Linked DNA regions of Homo sapiens: region 1 is linked to region 2. The links come from fine-mapping of genetic effects on gene expression. Tissue or cell type: monocytes. Region 2 holds a variant in brackets; the other region holds the start of a gene. All regions are shown on one strand. Distances are from middle to middle.

The links. PIP is the estimated chance that this variant, and not a neighbour inherited with it, causes the effect.
Region 1: it holds the start of RGMA, and the variant in region 2 is fine-mapped to the expression of RGMA in monocytes (TOPMed, PIP 0.99).

The regions. Positions count from the first base shown.
Region 1 is chr15:93,085,124-93,093,393 of GRCh38, forward strand. RGMA (repulsive guidance molecule BMP co-receptor a) reads right to left here and starts at 4,088. Exons shown (of 4, transcript NM_020211.3): 1 at 3,796-4,088. The coding sequence starts at 3,809. It overlaps LOC101927025 (a long non-coding RNA gene), which reads left to right and starts at 4,091. Exons shown (of 5, transcript XR_007064769.1): 1 at 4,091-4,154.
Region 2 is chr15:93,244,183-93,252,452 of GRCh38, forward strand. All of the region lies in intron 4 of LOC105370982 (a long non-coding RNA gene), which reads left to right. Among named protein-coding and RNA genes, the nearest start is that of RGMA, 160 kb to the left of the region's middle. RefSeq lists enhancers at 582-1,091, 1,092-1,599. The variant G/A (reference allele first, on the strand shown) is at 3,676.

The sequences.
Region 1 (8,270 bases), 160 kb before region 2:
GGACAGAAGAATGGAATATTACCAGGAAACAGAGCAAACTGTTCCTGTCAGCCAGGGTGAGCTGCTCCAAAGACCCTGATCTTAAGAGTCCATGAAGATGAAAAAATGAAATATAAGGAGAAGCCACAACAGACGGTAACTACTAAAATGTCCTGCCAAGACAGAAGTCAATGAGTTTTGGGGCGTTTTTACTCATACCCGCTGATCTCTGTTTTGGCCCACAGAGGACACAGAACCTATGGGAATTGGCCTCCTTTGACCAGATAGTTGACAGAGTCTTTAAACCTTCTGCCTAATTTTCAGGCTCTGGGAAATCCAGTATTTTGCTTTCTGAAAGTTCTTCACCTCATAGCACTGCTTTAAACAAGCAACTGAAAAATGAGAAAAGTAAATCCAACCAGCAATTCTGTAGTCACTCTCTGCATAAACTGTTTGCTACACTTCCATTATTTACTGTGGTAATCTGGATATAATCATTTCGTAAGTTGGGTAGGTACATAGTACATTTTTATGTTAGTCAGTTACCAGTGACTTAAAACTTTTTATATGAGGTTATAAAAGACATTTGCATTTATTTTGTCAATTTCTGCCCTACTTTTAAAATTCCTTCTTCTTCCTGCCCTAAGAATTGTAAAGTTTCACACCTCACTAGGCATTCTTGCCTCCTGACCCCTGGGTTCTAACATGATACAGCACTTCTACTCACAGGACGGACCTGGCTAAGAAACTGGGTATCCTTTCAATAGAGTTCATTTGTTCATCTGTCACCAAGGAAACTGACTTCTGCCTGGCCTTGTATGCATACTTGGGTAAGGCAATCCTTAATTTTTTCCACTGCCCTATTCATTGCTCCTTTATAGCTCTGTTGCTAAGAGAAGAGAGGCTGAAACTGAGCAGTCATTTGCTCAAAATAAGAAAAAGAGGAGCCTGTCTTTTGGATAGGCTGGATACCAAACAGGTGGGGAAACCTGGAGCTTCCCTTCTTCAGGTTAAATTTATGTTCAGTTAAGTTTGTGGAATGGCTACATAATGGAAGCAAAGCCATTCCCTAAAAGAGCCACAGGAACACCACAGACACTTAAAAGTTAACTAAACTTACCTTTGGGATGTTATAAGTCAAGTTCTAGAATAATTACCTGTAAGGAGTAGTGTCATTTCGTTTCACAGAACTAACAGATTCCAATTTGCCTGCGCTGCTTTCAGATAATCCTTCTATGTTTTTGCTCAATTGCACTTGGATACTTCCTGCCTCTTTCCCTGGATGGCAGGCTTCTTGATGGATCGGTGACCGTGCCTTCTTTCATGTCTATACTGCATGCTTCAAGGCAGGAACAAATTTTGCAACCATACTTGGTAAAAACAAGCGCTAGAACTTAATTCATTTGGTAGCAAGGTTGTAGGGGGAAAAACGCACTTTAGACTCACAGAACACTGGCCATATCCCTTCTGCTTTCTGGCCATCAGTTTCTTCTGAGAAACTGAAAATACCAGCACCCATTCCTGCCTGCTTCCTGGGAGCAGCAAGCATCCCTGGAAGAATGGCTGAAAAACTCCCTGTCCCAGTGTCAGGGATGCTCAGTCCCTATTTATTTCATTTTGCAACTGCTCGTCTAAGAATTCTTGGGCTTGGCTTCTCACAGGGCTGCTGAAGAGCAAGGGATTGTATTAAAAAGGAGATTCTTGTGCCTTTATTGTCTATTATTACATACACTGGGAAGCAGCAAGTTATTCCTTGGAGGAGGTTTGTAAAAAGAGAAAGCAGGCAGAGGTTTCTTAGCAAAAGTCAAAGGTGCCCTCCTTGAATGAGATGCCAAGCTATTCTAAGACCTCGTCTGTCACAAGTCTCATGATGACATAAATACCTACCAATGGAGACACAGTTTGAGACAGCATGACGGGGCAGACCAGCCACCCACCATTTCATATGTCTATTGGAGAATGTAAGCAACTGTCTGACACCTGGGAGGGAAATAATGGAAGCAGGGTACTTGAAAAAAGGAGGCTAAGACCTCTTTCACTACCAGCACAGCCCAGAGAGTCTCAAGGGGGTACTACAGTAGACCACTACACTGCTCTACAAGGGGCCAGGGTGCCCTTCAGAACCGGGTGAGCCCAGCTCACTGCTAATATATTATCTGGCCTGGAAGGTGGCAGCAAAAACCAGCCACAGAGAACGTGGAGCCCGCCTGGATGTGTGGGTGCCCCACCCAGAGCCTTTGTCTGCAGAACTTGCCATCCAGCCACGTCTGCCCCAGTTGTTAATTGGAGATCATGTCCCTGTAAAGGGGGCTTGCTTGTCACTTGCTGTGGTAACAGCAAGAAACCCCTTCTTTGTATGTGCAAAAAAAAAAAAAAAAAAAACCACAAAACCCAGTTTGGGTACACTATTCTGTTCCTGCACAAATGGGCAGGAGGCCCTCTCCCAGTTCTCCTCCTGTTGCCCTTCGGAGCACAGTTACTCTCTTTTCTAGGGGTCATGGCTCAAAATCCACCCAAGAAATCACCCGTTTGTGATGCACAGGAGAAGACAGAGGTTTGTGCATTGGTTTTCAAGATCTCTGCACCAGATACCTGCGGAAGGGGCATCTTCTTACAGCAGTTAACATTTTATATTACGTTTTTGCTGGAAGAGTCTAAAACCAAACAGAGAAGGTGATGGAGCTCCTTTAGGTGACAGCATGCCACTCAACACGACCCGCAATTTCGTCCCCTGAGCTCAATGTGCTGAGCATGGGAGGTCGGGGTTCTCCCTGGTACCGTCGATACTCAGAGAGCTTCTGTAGCCTCCTTCCTGGAGGCGAGGGCTGGTTCCCGCCTCTCCACCTTGTGCGGGAGACTACTTTGAGAACACCCAACAACTTCGCAGCCTAAGAGGAATGCACAGCTCACCACTTCCGCTAGATGGCGCTACTTCCCCTACTCCGCCCGCGAGACACCCAATTTATAAAATAAATACAACCCAACACCTCCCAAAACCACACCACATAATAGCAGCTCACAGGCTCCCATTAGAAATCTCAATTTGGGAGAACTGATTCTACCTCCGAGCAAGTCTAATACAATTACATTAATAAGACGCAATCCCGAATTGCACCCGAGCGTCCCCCACACCCGCCCTCCCATTGAATACACCTGTCCCCCATGCCCGGGCTTGTACCCTGGGTTGAGCTGCGGCGCGAGCCGGCGCTGAATCGTCGCCGTGCCCTCCCGTCCACTTAGGAAAGCCGGGGCGGCTTGGCAATGGGCATCCTCGGCCCTCAATCCAAGGTCCGCACCTTCCCGTACGCCGGCGCGCCGAGGCAAAGGGCCGCCGGGACGCGAGCCCACGCGGTGCACTGCGCCGACATCCCCGAGGGCAGGAGATGGCCAGGCAGCTCCGCAGCCGGGCGTCGAGCGGGAGGCGGGGGCCCGGGCGGCGCGGGCCAATGGGGGTTCACGGCGGGACAGTCGGGTGGCCGGCTCCGTCCGGGGCTCCGCGAGCCGGGCTGAGGGAAGGAGCTCCCAGCCCGCACACGGTGTAAGGGACGTGTGCCGGGTCTGCCCAACCACGCGCGCTGGCGGCTGCCCGGGGGAGAGTATTTTAGGAAAAAAGAACAAACACCAAACCACAAAAACTTTCCTGCTGCCAACAGCTAAAGCGATAGAGGCGCAGCAAAGCTCCAAATGTGGGCAAGATGGGAGCAAGATGAGACGCGGGGCTAAGGAAGACCAAAGCAGCGCCGTGGCCCCGGCATGTGTCGGCGGCGCCTCGGAGATGTCAGAGCCGGGTCTGCCCGGCTCCCGACCCGCGCTTACCTTGGCGGCTGCATGAGCCCCTGCGGCCCGCGGGGGGTGGCGCTGGCGGGGCTGCGGGAGAAGAGGGGGTGTCGGGGCGCCGCTCGTCTGCCCCGGGGCAAGGTGGGAGGGGCTCCGCTGGCGCTGGTCCCCGCCGCCCCGGCCGGCTCAGCAGCGGCCCGGGGAGCGCCTCCTGCTCCCGGGCTGCATGCCTGCGAGCGCCTGGCGGAGCCGGCCCGGGAGCGAACGGCCAGTGCTTCCCCGGCCCAGCGGCTCGGGCGGCGCAGCCAGCGCTCGGGAGACAACTGCAGAGTGGGGCGGCCGGGACCAGCCCCCTCCCTCGCCCGGCCCCCGCCCGCCGCCGAGCGCGGCGTCGCGAGGTTCGTTTGCGCGCCGAGGGGAGGGGGCGGGCCGGGCGCCCGGGCCGCGGGCGGGGGGCGCGCGCGGGCGGGGCCGGCAGGGAGGGGCGGGGAGGAGCGGGGTGCGGGCTCGCGTTGCCCCGCCCCGCCGCGGCCCCACCCTCCCGCATCAGCACCGGCTGGGTGGGTGCGGAGTGCGCCAGCGGCCAAGTCAAGACTCCTTGAATGCTCAGGTTAGGGGGCGCGGGCGGCAAGTGCGGCGACTCCCCGGGGCGCCTCCAACTTTCCGAATCGCCCGCAGGGTTGCGGTGGAGCGCACGGTGTCCTTCAGTTAGGCGGTGGTCGAGGGGAGTTCCTCTGAGATTTCTGGAGAAGGCGGTTACATCCAAGACAAATGCTGTTGCGCTCTGCGGAGACGCACCTTTGTTCTATAGAGATTTTGTTGTTGTTTAAGAATCTTCCTGAAAAAACTAATACATATGTATTACATGCTAACACACGCATACATTCTTGCGTAGAATTGTACATAACTCAGGAGTGTCTAGAGTGAAAAGACCGTATCGCACTCCCTCCCACGGCCGCGGCTCTCCCACGGCCGCGGCTCCCCCGCGGTAACCTTCGGTCAGGGTGTGCTCTGCCGCGGTTCTTTCCAGTCTCTGCGCTTTTACATGCACACGCACAGATTGCGAGTGGAATCTCCTGGGCTTTTCAAAAGAATGTTTTCAACATTAAGCGCATGCACACAGTGGCTTGAACACGGCCACGTCGGGAGCAGTAAATCCCCAGAGGCTCCGGGAGCCCAGGGAAGGACCCTTGCTGTGAAACAGCAAAGAGCCACCCAATCGCCATGTGTGGATCTGAAACCCCAGCTGGAGCGTGAAGTCGGTCTGGTTACACAGCTCAGGCCCAAATTAGCACTGCACGGTTAGAGAGATTTGCCAGTACATTCTAGACAGGGTTATGACCTTCCCCTTCTTACAGAACAAACTGTCTTGAATTTTGATATGATGAGAACTCTGGATTTGCAAAATGAAAAGGTATCGTCCGCATTAAAACACGATCGTTATTTATGCGTGTGGTCTTCAGAGATGTGGTTTTAACTCAATATTCTCCGTTTTATTTGTCAAGTGTATTTGTATAATCTATAGCTGGGATATAAATAAAATTAAGTGGTTTAGCAGGAAGGGATTGGGGATGGGTTTCTAGAATTAGCTCTGACCTTCGGCAAGTCATCTAGCTCTGCTGGGCCTCAGTTTCCTCATCTATGAATAGTAGGGTGTGTGTGTGTGTGTGTGTGTGTGTGTGTGTGTGTGTGTGTGTGGTCTTCCTGCCCTGACATTCTGTGCCCTGACATTCAGTGAATAACCAATTTCTTCATCTTTCATAGCTCAGCTCCAACATCTTCCCCACCCTCTAGGGAGTCCTCACATCCGTGCCTTTCCTTCCTAACACTGAGCTCACTCGGTAATTAGGCGCTCATTAGAGTGACCTTTCCCTACATGTTGGCCTCTCCCACCGTACCATAAGCATCATGAGGGCAGGAACCAGGACTCCTTGGAGTCATCATTGCATTCCTAGCACTTAATATGGTGCCTGGCACACTACAAGAATCTCTGAATGACTGTCACGCAGATAGTAGATTTCTTACTGTTCTTCCAAATTGCCTGGCATTTTTAAAAGGTCTGTAAGTGGAAACGTGTCTTTTTAAAATGAGGCCTTTGGAAAGTAACCAGCAGGGTTTTCCCATGGTGGGGGACAAACAATCCACTGTCTAGATAAGGACAGACAATTCTCAGCTCAATCAAGGGCCGTGGAGGTAGCCGGTAACTATTTACCTTGATGAGTGCAGGCACCCGTGGAGAAGACAACGAATATTAATGCTACTCGTTAAGTACTTGGTTAAGTTAGAACCCTGCATAGGCAGTTGGAATACACAGAGTGCTCAGATTTAAATGAAGCCGTGAAGTGTGTTTAGGGTGCAAATTAAGAAATGGACATGCTTTCAACCAACAATCTAGAAACATTCCTAATATAAAGCTCCAGGGTATCCTTGGCTTTCTTTACTGCAAAGGGCCTGGATTCCTTAATATGAACAGGAAACAGGCTAACCTAGGTACAAGAGTTTAAAAAAAAGAAAAAAGGCCATTAAGAAACAAGGGGCGGGGTAAGTGAAAGTCTAAGTCAGTACAAGACTAATATCTATATTAGTTTCTTTTTTGTCTGATATGTAGATTTGCCGAGGGAGAGGTTAAAATCCGGCGTCACATTTATAGAGGAAAACTGGGGTTTCCACCCCTTCTTGGCCACTCTTCCTTTTCTTCCCTTTTGTGAGAGGGGATACATGCTTGCTGGGCGGTCGCCAGATCCACCTGGATGCCACCTGGTGTGAGAAAGCTCTCCTGGGATGCACCACACCCGGCGCAGGGAAAGCCTGTGCTACTGGGGTGCGGAGCAATTTGCTGTCTCTCTGTTGCCAGTGAGGGGTGGTGCCTACTGGGCAAGAGTGCGTCCTCGGAGCGTGGATTCATAGTGAAATTGACCAAGCAATGTGACAGTGAATTGGCCTTACTTTACTCAGGGTTGCCACTGGGGGCCATCCCTTTGGATTGGGTGCCCTGCCTATTACATTTTTCTAGAAAAATTCAGGTTCAAAAGTAAAAGGCACCTTAAAGAAAGAGCAAGTCAGCAACTGTCCTCGGAACCTACTGAGGAAGGACTGACTGACTCCCACCCTTGGCTTTAGTGAGCCAAGAACCGGGAGTAGGTGCTAGGACTTACTTGTTCTGCACAGACCAGAAGAAGCTGTGTTTCCTTCCAGCAGGGATGCCTCCCAGAGGCATTTGTGGCAAGCACTTCCTCCATGTCACGCACTGGGCTCGACGCTGCCGAGGGTGCTGACCTGAGGCACACAGCCCCTGTCCTTAGACGCTTGCAGTCTAGTGGGAGAAAGAAGGAGTAAATAGGCCTCGGTGGCTAGGGTTGAGGGGGCATTGCATAGCAGCTCCATTATCTGTCCTCATCAGCAACCCTCCGCGTAGAATTCTAATAAAACACAGCACTTGTGCAAATGCTACCTAAGGCCAGTCTCTGGCCTTTTCTTCCAGTCAGACTGCAGCTCAGAGGGTCCCAGAGACACTCTGGAGTTGACGCTGCAAGGTAGAAGCAAAGAAGAGACAAACGAAATCTAATGTGATGGGATTTAGGAGACGGATGGGATTATTTCTAGTTGGAAGGACTAGGAAAGTCTTTATGGACGAGGTGTCACTTGAGATGATCACTGATGGCCCATCTGATGGATCTGATTGTAGTGCGTGCTTGATAGGGAAGGAGGGAGAGCATCCTAGGCAGGGGAGTCACTTGCATAGGGGCACAGAGGTGGCAAAAGTTGGGCAAATTCAATAGGGAGTGTTGAGTCTGGTTGGAATGTGTGCACTGGAGAGATGAGGGAGGACAGGGTGTTGTGATTCTTATGGTTATGGGTTCTTTCTAATTTGGTCTTGAGGTCTGTCAAGAGTGGCCATAAGCCAAGACAGCCACTCTAGGAGAGCCCTGATTGGGAAAAGTTAGGTTTGGGTGTGTGGTTCAGGTGAGACGCAATGAGGAGGTGAATGTAAAATGCATGAAATAGAAGAAATATGTTACTTACAGATCCAGGAGAGGTTAGCGGTGCCAACGGGAGGCTGAAGAGGAAGTCTAGAGATTGCAGGGAGCTCAAACAGCTGGGAGAGGAGGGAATGAGAGAGAGACAGACAGACAGACAGACAGACAGGGAGAGATAGAGAGAACCTGCTGGCTGTGCCTTTATTAAGTTCTATGGGCATTATCCCTTAGGCTTTCCTGAGGGGGTTGTGGATTGGCTAGTTTTAAAAAAATGTGTGAAGGGGGCAACTTATTAGCATGACTCTGGCGTTGGCCATTAGGTTTTATTGTGAGCAGCAGCTGTGGGAGGTGTTGTGTTCTGGATTAATGAGATGAGGAACACACTGGCCATGTCACACACAGCCACACGAGGAGGAAACGTTTCCTCTAGGCCAAAGGTGGCGGGGTATGGCTGGGTTTCCAACAGCGTATGTCAGCCCTAAAAATGGGTGCTTGAGGCAGCACGTAGATTAAACGAATGTATGACTCTTCCTCTCA
Region 2 (8,270 bases):
GATGAGCCCAGATTGTGGTCAGTTTAAGAGATGAAAGTGAGGAAACAGAATTTTACTTGTTTGGCCACAGAATATTATCTGGGCATATTTGAGAGGAATGAGGAGATAATTTTCTTTTTTAAAAAATGTTTTAGTTGACAAAAAATTGTATATGTTTATTGCATACATGTTGCTTTAAAATATGTATACATTGTGGAGTGGCTCCACTGAGCCCCTTAAGATAGGCATTACCTCACATGCACATCATATTTTTATGGTGAGACTTAATATCTACTCTCTTAGCAATTTTCAGGAGTAAAATACGTTGTTATTAATATAGTCACCATGTTGTGCAATAGAACTGTTGAACTTTTTGCTCCTAATAGAAATTTTATTTTTATTATTCCTAATAGAAATTTTATTTTTATTATTCCTAATAGAAATTTTATTTTTATTATTCCTAATAGAAATTTTGTACCCTTTAACCAACATCTCTCCAAACCTCTCCCTCCCGGCAGCCCCTCGTAACCACCATCCTGCGCTGTACTTTCATGCCTTCAGCTTTTTAGATTCCACATGTAAGTGAGATCACGCGGTGTTTGTGTTTCTGTGCTTGGCTTATTTCCCTTAACTTAAGGTCCTCAGGTTCGCATGTGGAGGAGACAGTTTTCTAATCTTTAATCCTTTGCTTTGTGGAGTGTTTCCAGTCGCCTGAGTGGTTTTCCATGCATTTGCCATTCCGTCTCTTCTTACACTCGGGCAGATATTATCATCATCATGACAGTTTTTAGAGCGGGGACTGAGACTCAGAGAGGTAAAGCCTGTTGTCCAAGACCACGCAGAGGACCAGGATGTTGGAATCTGCCCTTCCTTGCCACTATTTGCTGCATGGCCAGTGTATGCTGGGCACTTTTCTAGGTGCCAGAGGGCACTGAGCTGAGTCTGGTGTTGGGAGGGGTGGGTCTGCGGCCCTCTCCTCCCACACCTGTGGGTTCTCTTCTTGCGCCGAGTGGGGCAGAGGAGATCCGGCTGAGGCAGCACTAGGCGCAGCCCCCACACTGCCTGCGGGGTGGCGGTGGGGATCTGGTGGCTTCTCTCTGTGGTTGTGCAGGTCTTGATGGCTTCTGTACCCAGAGCTCCTGCCCTGGACAGCAGGGGCTCGGAGCTGCCCATTCCCATTGTAAGGAGGCTCCTCTCTATGCTGGAGGGTACTGTCTGGAGGTGTTTGCCTCACTCTCTCCGCTGTGTTAACTGAAAGGCAGGGTGCAGATGCGTGCGGAATCTGGGCAGCCTTGGACGCCCGCCCTTGAACTCAAAGTACGCACACCTTCCTCTTCCAACTTGGACGCCGGCTCCCTGGGTTCATCTTGGCCTTGGCCCTGTCCTTCTCAGGTCTAGTTCATTTCTTTTTGCTATCAGGCTGCAACTCCCATCCAAGGAAGGCTGGGCAGAATCCAATAATGAGTAGATTTCACTGACGGTTAGATTGATTGTCTAATCTGGTTGTCATGGGGGCCAGCAGAGACAACAGCATTGAGTCTTCCAGCGCTGAGGACAAATAGGTCAGAAGCATGCTCTTGGGTGGCCCCTCAGCCTGTCTATCTCTAAGAGACCAAAAGACTCGGTATTTTGCAGCCACCTGGGGTTATGGCAAGGATGATGTCAGGTCCCCGAGGGGGTCTCTGAATGGCCCTTCTGCTCTTGATTTATGAAAAGCATTCTGGCACATGCTTTTCCTCTCTCTGTCTGTTGTCAGACAGCCTGAGGAATCCACTCCCTTCATCCCCGTCCTGTCTCGAATCTCAGCAACACTCTGGGAGGTCTCTCAGTGGCTCCTTCCTAGGTTTCACAATCAAGTCTTTATTCCAGGCAATTTATTTCCAACCTAGATACCAACAGCACACGTTGGGATGACTATAAAGCTGACTGCAAGGACATCTCAGCCAGGCCCAGGCAGTGGATGGAAGTCTTAGGATGGAAGTGTGAGAGTTAAGAAATGATGTATTTCAATTGGAACATTTTTCAGATGGGGAAATGGAGGCATAAAAGGGGGAGGCATGTGGCCTGAGACTCTTACAGGCATGGGACACGTCCTTTTCTGGATCCTGCAGCCCAGTCTTTTCTCCACATCCCAGGGACTTGCTACTCTTCATAACATCTCCTGTGTTCACAGCAGCATACGTGTACCTGCTGCTGTCGTCATTTGTGATAACTGCACACCGCTGGCCGCAGCCCGGCTCAGAGAGACTCATGACCTGATTCTGAGGGACTGGTAGGAGCAGACGCTGTGGAGCGTGTTTGCAAGGGGCCAGGCTCTCCTCTGTGTGCGGTGAATTCAGTTGCTCCTCGTGACTCCCGTGAGGAAGGCATTGCTATTATCCCCATGTCACAGACGAGGACTCTCTGGCACACGAAGGGAGAAGAGTTTGGTCCACATCACACACCCCAGAGTGGCAGAACCAGGATAGGAACCCACACAGTCGGGCTTTGACAAGGTGTTCTTAGCTTCTATGTGATGTGGCTTCCGAGTCAGCTCAGCTGGTGTTCCTGAATCAGGTCTATTGCGAAGGAGCATGTAAGGTTCCAGGAGAGTGCAGGAGGTCTGTCTCATTTTGGAAAGGCCGAGCGACAGGAAAAACCACATAAAACCCTTGCTGATTTTTCTGCTTCTGTTACACCGAGTGTGGGTGCGTTGTGCTCTGTACAAAATAATGGTTTTTGTCAGACAGGGACGAGCCGCTGATGGAGGAACACCTTTCCTCCTAGGCTCTCCCTGCGTCAGGCGCAGCCTCGTCATCCTGCCCTGCCCAGTAATTTAGAAGAATAGCAGTAATGATGACAGCCAAAGCCAGCTGGATCCTCAGGGAGAGTCCTAGGAGGCAAACTATAATTATCTAAATTAGACTCTGAGGGGGACTTAAGTTTTACAACCTGTTGTTCTCTGCCACAGAGAGGAGTGTTGCTAATGTCTCTTTTTGCTGAAAGTGTGCCTTACAATGGAGTGTCTCACGGCTGATGTTCATATGGAAACAATGACACTTGCTTTTCTTTCTTTTTTGCCAAAACCCATTCAAAGAGTTCACTGTATCTCAGTGAAGGTTGAGAGGACTTCTAGAAACTTCCAGAAACTTACGAAAGTTTCCATGTTTGTGAAATGAATGTTTTGCCTTTTTCCTAAATTACATTCCCATCAAGAAGCAAGTAGTTCTTGCATATTCTTCCATCTCAAAGTAATCACTCACCTATTTCACCAGGCTGTTTTTTTGGAGTCTCAACTGGCAAATTTCTACAAAGTGCTCTTCTTCACAAGACTTCCTGTTACCTCAGGACCAGAGGTAACCATGAAGCTGAGGGCGGTGGGGCAGCCTCACTAGTGAAATGACTCCCTCCCGCTCACAAGCCTTCCATGGGGCTCACGCCACACCTCAGCAACATTACAAATGCCGACCTAAGTAACACGGGGGTTGACTTCAGACATTGTGGTCAGGCCGACTTGTGTTTAAACCTAGGCTTTGACACCGGTCGATCGTTCAGCCACATGCAGGTTACCTAAGCATGTCCCACGTGGCACAAAGCAGTTGCCTGAACGCCACACTGGGAGGCTTGTCTTAACTTTATCCTGGCTTCCACCTGCACTCGCCGTGATTCTGAGGGCTACTGACCCCAGCCTGGTGCTGCGTTTGGGCTCAAAAAATT[G/A]CAATGCTGTCAAGCTGCAGAATCTCTATTGCCCAACAGATACTGTTGTCTTGCCAAATAATTTTTAGTAATTTTCCACCCATCCCCCTTTATGTAATTTTCCATTTCCCCATAGCCCCTCTAGTCTGTTTTTTTTTTATTCCCTCCTTTCACTTCCCCATAATCCCTTTTAGTTCCCTCTCTGTTCTCCCTTTAGAAACCTCCATACCTTTGTCCTAGCTGGATTTGAGCTCAGTTATATTGGAGTCTCTTTCCTCTAAGGCAGTAGACTGAACAAAATGTTTTGCCGCCTTTAATGTGTGTCTGGCACTGGCATTGATGAAGGCTTAGCTTCTGCACCTGTAACATGAACAGGTGAGTATCTCTTCTTCTAACTAGGCACTACTTAGTGATATAATAACAGTAACATGTTCTGGGCCATGAGGATTTATTTCCCAAAGTAGAAACCACATTGGTTAAATGTGCAAATATCAATGCTGTACTGAGTTGAAAAGACACCCCAAGCCGGGCACGGTGGCTCATGCCTGTAATCCCAGCACTTTGGGAGGCCAAGGCTGGTGGATCACCTGAGGTCAGGAGTTCAAGGCCAGCCTGGCCAACATGGTGAAACCCCGTCTCTACTAAAAATACAAAAATTAGCCGGGTATAGTGGTGTGCACCTGGAATCCCAGTTACTTGGGAGGCTGAGGCAGGAGAATCGCTTGAACCCAGGAGGCGGAGGTTGCAGTGAGCCAAGATCGAGCCACTACACTCCAGCCTGGGTGACAGAGCAAGACTCTAAGAAAAAAAAAAAAGACACCCCAAATACTCACAAGCGAAGTGACACTTGAAAGAATCTTCACATTTACAGGCTGAAGAAGAGAAACAAGGGAATCTTAAAAGTGAGAGGGCCGGGTGTGGTGGCTCACGCCTGTAATCCCAGCACTTTGGGAGGCCAAGGCAGGCAGATCACGAGGTCAGGAGATCAAGACCATCCTGGCTAACACAGTGAAACCCCGTCTCTACTAAAAATACAAAAAATTAGCCGGGCGTGGTGGCGGGTGCCTGTAGTCCCAGCTACTGGGAAGGCTGAGGCAGGAGAATGGCGTGGACCCGGGAGGCGGAGCTTGCAGTGAGCCGAGATCGCGCCACTGCACTCCAGCCTGGACAACAGAGCGAGACTCCATCTCAAAAAAAAAAAAAAAGTGAGAACAGCGACAGTACATGCAAGGCAGAGTTGTGGATGGAAGAGTGGACTTTGGTAACAGAAAAGAGGCAGGCAAGGTTGGGATTAAAAGGGCCCTGTGTATCAGTGTGAGGTGCTTGCATTCCATCTTTAGGGCAACAGGAGAGCTTAAGCCACAAGGCGAGTTTTGCTTACTAGGTGGTGCTAATAGGAAGAGCCAAACCATAAGGCAGAAAAGAGGTGGATTTGCTTACATTGATATTAAGGATTTCTGGTCCAGTCCCTGGACAGAGTTTATAATAGATGACAGAAATGGGAGAAGGTCTTTACTCAGGAAAATCCTCAAATCCACAGGAAAAAAAGATGGCAACTTCTAACAAAATGGGAAAAGGATAGAATGAGGCAATTTTTAGCAGAAAAACCTCCCATCTCAAATAATAAACACATGATGAGGTGCTTAATATCTTAGTAATCAGATGAAAATTAAACAGCCACAAGCTACCACTTTACATCTGTTAGACTATATCTTTATTAGAAAGCTGGATAGTGCCAAGTGTGGTGGGAGATCCAGGAGCCTCCCCTCACTGCTACGAGGAGACTGGATTGGAGAGCATGCGAATTGAGTATTGCCTACCCAAAGAGGCTACATCAACCCGGATCCTCGAACAAAGATGTTCTTTGCTGTGTCATTTGTAGAAGTATGGAATTCTCTCTCAGCTAAGAGATGAGGCTGACAAAGTGCTGTGGATGCACATGAAGTTTGACGCATCAATTACAGGAAACAGATCAGCCAGCCAACAGCGACATCGCTGGATCTCAACAACGCAGTGTTAGTGAGAACTCTAGGAAGCAAAATGAATTATCTATGCCATTTACATAGATTAGAGATACACCCATACAAATATATACAGCTTTTAAGGAATATGTGCAAAAAGCACTCTATTAAAGAGAATGAAGGTTGCCCAGAGGCAGGGGGAGGGGAAAGGGAGTGAGGGGATGGAGCTTGAATCTGGGGAGGGGAAAGGGAGTGAGGGGATGGAGCTTGAAGACAATAAATAAATAATAAGAGTAAAACCTTGCATGGTTACAGCTCTCAGACTGAGGAGTATGAAGATTTTAGCCTTTGGCACTGAGGTTAAACAAAAGCCATCATTTTGAGGGAAAGGACTACCTTTGTTTATGTACTTTATTGGGGTCTGGAAGGATGCCACATATGCTTAAATAATTAAGAATTTTTTTAATAATCCCATATAATGTTTATCATGTTTTCAAAGCTCCTTCCCATAGGTGGATCAATTTGATTGTTACAATGACTATATAAATGAGTTCGTGGGGATATTTTTAGAAAATGAGGAAGCTGAGCCCATAGGGGCAAAGTGACTTGCCTAGGGTCACACAGCTGGGAAGTGTGACTCACCCCTTGGACTCTTAACCCTTGTCCAAGGTCTCAGGTCCCCAGGAATTATCACTACATCAAATGGAAAATCATTGCTCCTTTAAGGAAATTGAAATGATAAATGTCGTTTGCCTTGGATTTTTTTCACATGGACTTTTCTGTTTTCACTGCTTTTGTTGTGCTTAGATTTTGTTTTTGTCATTGTTAGGGGAGAAATTTTGCTACTTGTGTATCATGTCAATGGCTGTTAGCACTACAGCATAAAGTCCGTTAATGGGTTTAACAGAACTAATAGCAGCTATTTTTAATTTAAAAGTGTCTGTATGTATTTTTCTTATTTCAAACATAACTTATACTCCATTGGAACTCTCTTTTTTTCACCTTCCAGAGATAACCGCTGGTAAGAGTTTGGCTTATATTCTTCTACATTTTTTTCCCCACAAGAAACTGAAATTTGAATTTTCTTCTACAAGTGAGAAAAAAAAAAAGTAAAATCTCTAACTGTCTTAGTGATGATAATTCTGAGAAGACAGGCCCATTGAGCCAAGTAGGAGGATAGGTTTCCTGAGGATGGAGATGCAGAAATAGTTGACTTTGCCTTCACGAAGCATCCTGACATTTTTAGATGTGGCTACACTCTGTGGGCCGGAAGTCGAATTCCCTGGAGGGCTAGAGCTCTCAGTATTTTGGACATATGTGAAGTCAGCACAGGGGGCAGGCGGTAAGTTAACTTGAAGAGAATTCCAGTTACAAATTTAGCTCAGCTTCTAAAAAACACTCCCATCGAAGAGAGATTCCTGGTTGCTGTGGAACTGCGTCCCCTGTGGGATTTTCCTTGTGGAGTTAACTAGACACAGTTGTTACTAGGTAGCGGGACAACAGATTTGCTTAAGATCTCTTCGATTTTGACAGTTTGATGATGGGTGACTTATGTGGTATTGTGGACATCTGTTGGCTTTATATTTTGCCTGCCAAGCATCCATACTTTCTTTTTTCTGGTATCCATACTCAATTTTTCTTCTGGTTCACCACCTATACCGGGTTGAATAATGCCTCCCTCCCCACCCCAATTCATGTCTACTCGGAAGCTCAGCATGTGACTTTATTTGGAAATAAGAGTCTTTGTGGATATAGCTAGGATGAGGTCATCCTGGATTAGGGGGGGTCCTAAGTTCAAGGACTGGTGTTACCATGAGAAGACACAGAGAAGGAAGGAGAGGCAGAGACTGGAATGAAATAACTGGAAGGGAAAGAACACGGAGGATCGGGATTGTCAGCGCCTCCAGGAGCTAGGAGAGAGGCCTGGAACGGGCTCTGCCTCAGAACCTCCAGCAGGAACCAACTCTTTGGACACCTTGATGTTGGGCTTCTGGCCTCCAGGACTGGGAGAAGATGCATTTCTGTTGTTTAAGTCCTCCAGTTTGTGGTATTTGTTATGGCAGCCCTAGCAAATTAATATACCTCCCATTTACCCTGTCAAAATGATCCGGGGGCTAGTCTCTGTTGTGCTGGGCTCCTATTAACTTCGGTAGGGAAGGCATTAGGTTCAGGAGGATGAGGAAGAGACCCAGAGTCCTCAAATGAGACATGGGGTTTTATTAGCAGGAAGCTTACATACACAGTGGTCCAGTGGTGGTGGGCTGGGCAGGAGAACCACAACTGCTTCCAAAAGCATGTGGTTTGTACAGCATTTTCACCTAGCACCCTCCCTGTAACAATCTCCACCTGGCAACCCTCGTTTAACTCAAAACAAAGGGCCTCAATGTCCTGCACGGGCCCTTTACGTTCCATGCGTCAGGCTGGGGGCTCAGAGGTTTCTCGTAGCTAAGGAATGGATAAGGGTTGGCCCCTCCCATTCCTTAGGATCCTTGGAACACTAACAAACATTCAGGTGCATCTGCCATGCAGGGTCATTCTCAGGGTATGCTCAAGTCATCACTGTCAGGTGCGTCTACCATACGGGCTCCCACCCCGCTTCCAGGATGGACATGTCACACAGAGCTGAGCAGGTTACTTAGGACAGACACATCACTT